Linked DNA regions of Homo sapiens: region 2 is reported to be linked to region 1. The links are microRNA targets in miRTarBase. Many come from high-throughput screens and were not tested one by one. Region 1 holds a microRNA gene; the other region holds the end of a gene's coding sequence.

Region 1 (4,067 bases):
TGTGAGGTGAGGACTTTTGTATGCCCCACTCTACAGGGGGATGTAGAGGCACTGAGGCACAAAGGTGAAGGGACTTGCATAGGGCTGCTGGGTTAGAGAGTCACAGAGCCAAGCTGTGGGCCTGCTAGGCTTTCCAACCACCCTGGAGGAAGTGAGCTGCCCATCCTGTGGAGGTATTCAAGTGGACTCAGTGCTGGGTAGAGGGTATGGCTATGTGTTGGGGCCCACCTTTGTTATCTGATAAAAGAAAATACATGGGTAGGTGTGGTGGCTCATGCCTATACTCTCAGTGCTTTGGGAGACTGAAGTGGGAGGATCACTTGAGGCCAGGAGTTGTAGACCGGCTGCCCTCCCCCACCCCCCCTTCTACAAAAAAATAAAAATTAGTGGGGTGTGGTGGCGCATGCCTGTACTCCCAGCTGCTCAGGAGGCTGAGGTGGGAGGATCTCTTGAGGCCAGGAGTTTGAGGCTGTAGTGAGCCGTGATCATGCCACTGCACTTCAACCTGGGTGACAAAGGGAGAACATGTATCAAAAATAATAATAATAATAAAAAAAATAAACAAAAACGCATTGAGCCAGGCACGGTGACTCAGACCTCTAATCCCAGCACTTTGGGAGGCCGAGGTGGGTAGATCGCTTGAGCCTGGAGTTTGAGACCAGCCTAGGCAACATAGTGAGACCCTATCTCTGCAAAAAATTTAAATAAAATTAGCCAAGCATGGTGGTAGGCGTCTGTGGTCTCAGTTACTAGGGAGGCTGATACGGGAGGATTGCTTGAACGCTGGTGGTTGAGGCTGCAGTGATTCCTGATCACGCCACCGCACTCCAGCCTGGGCAACAGAGTGAGACCCTGTCTCAAAAACAACAGCAACAAAACATTGATGGCCTACTCCGAGGCAGGCTTCGCAGTAAGCACTGGGTGAAGACCAAGGAGAGCAGCTCACATTTATTTACCCCTGAACCATCTCTATGGGCCATACCCGAGGGTAGGGACCTCCTTCAACGCCTCGGAGGAAATTGTCTGCTGAATGAATGAATGAGCAAACACGTGGAGGACTGGGCCGGGACGCCCATTTAGAGACTAGGACACAGTCCCAGGGCGGCCCGAAGTCACGGAGCAAGATCGAATCGGAGCCGATTCCAACTAGAGCCCTCTCCAAAGACCGTCTGCCGCTCTATCCGGGGATCGCGACACCCATTTTCCAGGCGAGGAAACTGAGGCCCTGGCCCTGCACCTCCCCCGCAGGGGAGGCCCTCGCTGGGCGGGCGGGGTGCGAGTAGGGGCCGCCCCTTCTAGGGCCTGCGCTCGGCGGGGTCCGCGAGCCGGCGGGTGGGCGGGGAGCTGGCCGGGGGCGGCGCGCGGCTGGAACCTGAGCCGGCGGAGGAGGGACCCGCGGGCGGACGGGCGCCGGGCGGGCCGGCCGGGATTCAGGAAGCGCGGATCTCCCGGCCGCCGGCGCCCAGCCGTCCCGGAGGTAAGTGGGGCCCGGGCCCGGGAGGGGCGGCTCAGCCGAGGTCCCCTCGCGCCCCTGGGGACATCTCCGTGGCCCGTCCGGCTCCGGGGGGTCCCGAGGCTCCAAAATGCGGGCCAGGGGCGCGGGAGACGGAAGGCACCAGGTTCCGCAGGCGCCAGCCTCTCAGCTAAGTGCCCTTGGGCCGGACACCGGCTCTTTGGGTCTCGGTTTTATCACCTGTGAAATGGGCACCAACGTGGGGCCTGGGGTAGCAGGTCTGGGGGGAGGGCGGTTCGGTTCCCTGAGACCCCAAGCCAGGGAACCAAAGGCCCGGAGCCTTGCAGCCCACCTTAGGAGACTTGGAAGAGGGATTTCGGGGGACCTAAGGTTTGCCCTTGGCCCCTGAGCATGTCGGAGGGAATTTGGAGTCTGGAGCTTCCAAAGGCTTCTTCTTGGTTACTGAGTCCCGGAGAGACGGCTGTTTCCTCCAAGAGGCATGAAAATCTTTAACCTCTAGTTCTGCCCTGGACTCTCAGGACGTCCCGGGGGCGGGTGGCTCCTGGGGGTGGGTAGCGGGGGTGGGGGTGGGGGAGAGAGAGACTCCCACACTCCCCGCTTGCCTGGAAACACCAACCACAGATGCATTCATCGAGCCACCCACTGCTCCAGCCTGCCCCAGCTGTTCCCTCTGTCTGTCCTCTCTGTTTTGCAGATGGGGAAACTGAGGCTTAGGTCGGGGATCTAGACAATTGGGATTTAAACCCAGGGACTATCCAGCCCCAAAGCCCTTCCCACCACACCAGGTGGCCTGTCCTGGGGCCAGCTCTGCACACAGGGCCTGGTGCCCCCGGGGTGCTTGGGAAGTGGCAGGGCAGAGGTGGGCCCTGTGGCTGTTCTGGCTCAGCTTCTAAAACAAGAGCCTCTGCTGGGGGCAGAGGGGCCGTGAACCCCTGAAATGTTAGGCAGATACCCTGTGGGAGCTTTGTTCTGGGATGCTAAGAACCGCTTGAGGATTTAAGCTTTGCCACTTTGGCTCCGGAGCAAGGGCAGAGGGTAAGTCGGGACTCCCCGGGCTCCTGAGGAGGGTGACGAGGTGGGCTTTTGGGGGAACAAGGGTAGAAAGGTCAGGCCTGGGTTATCTGCGGGGCTAAGAGCGGGCCTGTGTGGGGCCCGGGGTGTGCTCTGCAGTCCCCTGCTGTGTGACCTTGGCCTGGTCCCTTAGCTGTCTGAGCCTTTGTGTTCTCTCCTCTGTAATACTGGGGTGCCTGAGGGCAAGCCCCCAGGGCTGTCGTGAGGACCGATGACCTTCCAGGAACCTGGCACAGCCACTGTTGGCTGCCATCAATGTTTAACCAGTTGTCGTTGCCCCAAACATTTTCTTAACAAAGAGGGTGAAAAAAGTCAATTGGCCATTTCCACATTTCTCTAGTTCATTCTGTTTGAAGAATGATGGGAACCAGAAAGCCTGGACACCCACCTTGATTGGTGAATTGCACGCGGAAGGGGTCCCAGACACAAATGGCAAATGGCAGTCATAGTTCAGGGCGGTTCACTTTGTAAGATCAAGGTGGGGCTGTTTTGAAATGGAGGTAACCAGGGAATGGTTGCCTGAACAAAAAGGGTGTGATGCCCCCAGGAGGGATGTTTCACATGAGCTCCGGTGAGGATGGCTGGGATTCCCCAGGTGAAACCCAGATACCTTATATCTGGGGAAGGGGCTGTGGAGGTTCCTCCTGCCTTATCTGGTGCCAACTGGGCCTCTGCCACTTACTCCCTCCTCCAGCAAATGCTCTCTGCAAGCTCACCTGTGCCAGCTCTGGGCTGGGCACTGGAGCAGTGAGATGCTTCCAATCCCAGCTTCGCTGTAGCCTGAGGCGTGTGAAGGCAAGAAGGATTTTCCCTTGTGGCCCCCCGGGGAGGAGCTCCCACACCTGACTTGTGAGCATCTAGCAAGGTGTGCATGGATGGCCGACGCTTAGTAAATGTATGCTGTGGAATGGATGGGGTCAGGGGAGAATGCCGTAGGGTAGGAGGACTGGCCCAGGAAGGACCCACGAGGGCTTGGTCAAGGTAGTGTTTAAGCCGCACCTTAAAGAATAAATGCAGAAGTAGAGGAAAGAGTATTCAGGCAAAGAGAATGGCACTAGCAGAGATATGACTTTTACCTGTTACCAGGTGGCTACACCTGGGGTTTATAGAGCAGAGAAATAGTTCTGTTTGTCTGGAGTTTGTGACGTGACTGGAAAGGGTGAGGGATCAGACAGGCAGGAGCTAAATCAGACCCAGAGGCCCAGAAGTCCTGCCTGGGAGTGACACGGTTGTTTGTCTGTTCTAGAAAGGTCCCTGTGGCTGCAGAGTGGGAAAGATTGGAGGAGCTCAGACAGAGAGGCTGGCCCCAAGGCTGGGGAAGTCATCCAAGCTCTGAGTGGAGAGCGGCAGCTGGAAGGAGATGTAGGAGGGAAGGAAACACACAAGACTGAGCCTCATGTGCCTGGCACATAGTAGGTGCTCAGTCAGTATCTATGGCATGGTTGTCTGAACAAATACTTTTGAGATGGTCAAAGTCCTTTGAGTTCCTTCCTCTGTTCCTAGGGGGATGGGGTCTACATGA
Region 2 (4,067 bases), not on the chromosome of region 1:
CTATAGCTGAAATCGTTTTGATCTGGGTAGTCTCCTATCAAAATTACTTTCACATACTTAGTAAAACTCATTACAGGTGAAAGCTACTGAATGAAAGCCTAGTAATAGTTATAGAAGAAAAAAACTTGAAAAAAGTTTTACTTAACATTGCAATTATTTTTAATTAAGAAACAGCAATGACAAATAATTGCTAGTTATCACTATCACGTAATAAAAATATTTTAAAAATCTGGGTTGTGATACACTAAAGTTATGAGAAAATATATTTGTCTGTAGTCTATATTCAGTTGAACAGACTTTAAAACTGTGTATTAAAAGGTCTTTGCAGCCAGGCGTGGTGGCTCATGCCTGTAATCCCAGCATTTTGGGAGGGCGAGGTGGGCAGGTCACCTGAGGTCAGGAGTTCGAGACCAGCCTGGCCAACAGAGTAAAACCCCATCTCTACTAAAAATAGAAAACTTAGCCAGGTGTGGTGGCATGCACCTGTAATCCCAGCTACTCAGGAGGCTGAGGCAGAAGAATCACCTGAACCCGGGAAGTGGAGGTTTCAGTGAGCCAAGATCACTGCACTCTCCAGCCTGGGTGACAGAGGGAGACCCATCTCAAAAAAAAAAAAAAAAAAGGGTCTTTGTAGGCCAGGTGCGGTGGCTCACACCTGTAACCTGTAATCCCAGCACTTTGAGAGGCTGAGACAGGTAGATCACTTGAGGTCAGGAATTCAAGACCAGCCTGGCCAACATGGTGAAACCCCGTCTCTACTAACATACAAAAATTAGCTAGGCATGGTGGCAGGCGCCTGTAATCCCAGTTACTTGGGAGGCTGGGGCAGGAGTATCGCTTGAACCCAGGAGGCAGAGGTTGCAGTGAGCCGAGATCGCACCACTGCAGTCTAGCCTGGGTGACAGAGCAAGATTTGCTCTCAAAAAAAAAAACAAAAAACAAGTCTTTGTAGATTTAAAATTAATCACATAATTAAATCTGATTCTGAAAAGTAAAACAGCCTAGTGTCAAGGCTGTCCTACAAATTACCAAAAAGAAAAGAAAATGCTAACCCATACACATACTTTATGTGCTTAAATAACCATATTACACCTAGCACCAACCTAAAAAAGAAAATATCTGACTAAATATCTGTGAACAGAAAAAAAAATTTCATTTAGAAACCCTTAAGTGGTTTATGCTTTTTAAGCTTTTTAAATCAATATGGATTTCTAGCCCAACAAAATAAAGAACAAATGAAAAATGGCTTTTAAAGACATCGCCTGTACAGAACACTGATATTTGTTGGTGTCAAATGTGCAATCCAATAGCACAGACACAAGGACACAGAATTCATTTGCTTCATAACAATGCTGAGTTTCTTAAAATATCCCATGCAGAACCCATTATAATTTCTGACATAAAATTTAAATGGGAAAAATTTTTAAAGTACTACAAACTCTAAATCTGAATTTTGAGTAGCAAAAAAGGTAATTACATACCACAAACACCGAAAGGCAACAGTTAAAGAGAAGTAACATTTACTTCGCGCCAGGAAAATGCACTGACCTAGCATTTTCCTACATCCCTCGCTTAATCCTCACATTGATCTGATCATGATCCCCATTTTACAGATCAAACAGGGGCCCCAAGAGACTGAGTAACTTGTCATTGAGCCAGTCTCGCTCAAGTCTGTTTTTAAACACTATACTACTTGCTTCTTTTCCTTTGAGAGAGTCTCACTGTCGCCCAGGATGGAGTACAGTGCTGTGATCTCAGCTCACTGCAGCCTCTGCCTCCCAGGTTCAAGCAGTCCTTGTGCCTCGGCCTCCCAAGTACCTGGGACTACAGGCATGTGCCGCTATGCCCAGGCCTTACTTGCTTCTTAAATAGAAAGTTACTCCACAGAAGCCAGGTGCAGTGGCTCACGCCTGTAATTCCAACACTTTGGAAGGCCAAGGTGGGCGATCACCTGAGGTCAGGAGTTCGAGATCAGCCTGGCCAACATGGTGAAACCCTGTCCCTACTAAAACTACAAAAATTAGCTGGGCTTGGTGGTGGGCGCCTGTAATCCCAGCTGAGGCAGGAGAATCACTTGAATCCGGGAGGCGGAGGTTGCAGTGAGCTGAGATTGTGCCATTGCACCCCAGCCTGGGCAACAAGAGCAAAACTCCGTCTCAGAAACAAAACGAAACAAAGCAAAAAAGTTGCTCCACAGAGAATGTAATGGAAATTAAATTTCAATATACAGTTGCCCATTGAACAACATGGGTTTCAACTGCGAAGTCCATTTACACACAGATTTTTTCCAACCAAACTTGGATTGAAAATACAGTATTCTCGGCCAGGCATGGTGGCTCACGCTTGTAATCCCAGCACTTTGGGAGGTTGAGGTGGGCTGATCACGAGGTCGGGAGATCGAGACCATGGTGAAACCCTGTCTCTACTAAAAATACAAAAAAATTGTCCGGGCGTGGTGGCGGGCACCTATAGTCCCAGCTACTCAGAGAGGCTGAGGCAGGAGAATGGCGTGAACCTGGGAGGCAGAGCTTGCAGTGAGCCGAGATTGCGCCACTGCACTCTAGCCTGGGCGACAGAGCGAGACTCTGTCTCAAAAAAAAAAAAAAAAAAAAAAGAAAGAAAGAAAATACAGTACTTTCACAGGATGCAAAATCTGCTTATGTGCAAGGTGGAATTCTCCCATGCACGGGCTCCACAGGACTGAAGGAGTTCAGTGTGTGCAGATCTGGGTGTACGTGGATGGTCCTGGAACCAATTTTCTGCATATACTGAGAGACAAATATGTCTCTTTCCTGCAGGAAGAGGGGAGTTCTCAAAAGAGATGTGAAGGAATACTGGGAATATCACATTTTAGTTAGAAACAGAATTTTATTTTTGAAAATAGAAAAATCAAACAATATTTTTAAAATGCAATCTATTGATGTCATCATATTTGGTTTGGAATACCTAAGAATGCAGTGACTGAAATGTCTGTTCTAAAAACATAAACATTTTTTGATATCAGTACCAACCCACTTTAATTTATATGTGAATAAGAGAACTTCGCTTGAAAAATACAAATATACATATTCGAGAGCACTACCAAATTTTGAAGCTTAATGTATTCATTGCCAACGTACTGTACATAACTAAAAGTCATTTTAAATGTTTTCTAAACAGGGACTGATGTGGATATCAACAATGGTTTCATCCTAAAACTGAGTTTTAGCATTTGTTTAGTATATTTACCTATTTAGTTAAAGCACATTACAATAATCTTTCACCCATTCCTTGTGGCTTATGTTTATTTTCATTTTTTTTAGAGATGGAATCTTGCTATGTTGTCCACGATGGATTCAAAATCCTGGGCTCAAGAGATCCTCCTGCCTCAGCCTCCTGAGCAGCTGGGACTACAGGTGTGCACCGCCACACTCCACAGCTGATGTTTTAATAAAGTGCCACTGAGTATCAGACTGATCAAACTGAAAACATCCCAGAACTTCAGACCAGGTTAAGGGGGCCAATGAGAAGATCATGAAAAGTGACATCAGATGAAAGCTGAGATCTGTGAAAGTTTCAAATCAGTTTTTCCAAGTAAGTCCACAGACCATTTGATAGGCTAAGCCCAGTTCTTTACACAATGTAGCAGCCATCATGTCTGAGTACTAATTGTTCTCTTCCCACTGGTTTTTGTGAAATTTTCTGTTCTGTTACCTTTTAAAGATTCTAGCAAGTTTTTGACTGTTTCAATTGCAAACTTATTGCTTTTCTTCTTGGTAAAGGACTTTCTGTTTGGAGCAGATGGTAGCAATAGGGATACCAGCCCCCAGGGCCGATTACTTGATATGGAAGGTCGATCTGTATCTTCCTGTTGTAAAATCCAGGCACTTTCTCGGGCCAAATCTACAAATTTTTGCAGCTGGCTTTGACTTACATTTTTGCTTATGTTGAGAGAAGTTTCAAATGGATTCTGAATGTACAGAGGAGAAGAATCAGGTTTGTTTTGCTCCCTTCCCTATAGATTATTACACAGAAGAAAAAATGAGTAAGTACATGAAGGGCTTAAATATAAAAACAGTTAACTCAAT

What was found. The annotated mature microRNA hsa-miR-4497 reads CUCCGGGACGGCUGGGC and lies in region 1 at 1,461-1,477, opposite strand. An mRNA with a match to its seed (bases 2 to 7 or 8) in the 3' UTR can be bound and repressed. Matches are read on the target gene's strand: a 7mer-m8 pairs with bases 2 to 8, a 7mer-A1 pairs with bases 2 to 7 and ends in A, and an 8mer does both.
Region 2: miRTarBase lists MTPAP as a target of hsa-miR-4497. Seed matches in the 3' UTR shown: 7mer-m8 at 2,080-2,086.

The regions. Positions count from the first base shown.
Region 1 is chr12:109,830,760-109,834,826 of GRCh38, reverse strand. MIR4497 (microRNA 4497) reads right to left here and starts at 1,479; the gene lies at 1,391-1,479. TRPV4 (transient receptor potential cation channel subfamily V member 4) reads left to right here and starts at 1,429. Exons shown (of 16, transcript NM_021625.5): 1 at 1,429-1,477.
Region 2 is chr10:30,309,978-30,314,044 of GRCh38, forward strand. MTPAP (mitochondrial poly(A) polymerase) reads right to left here. Exons shown (of 9, transcript NM_018109.4): 9 at 1-3,994. The coding sequence ends at 3,632. Among named protein-coding and RNA genes, the nearest start is that of MTPAP, 37 kb to the right of the region's middle.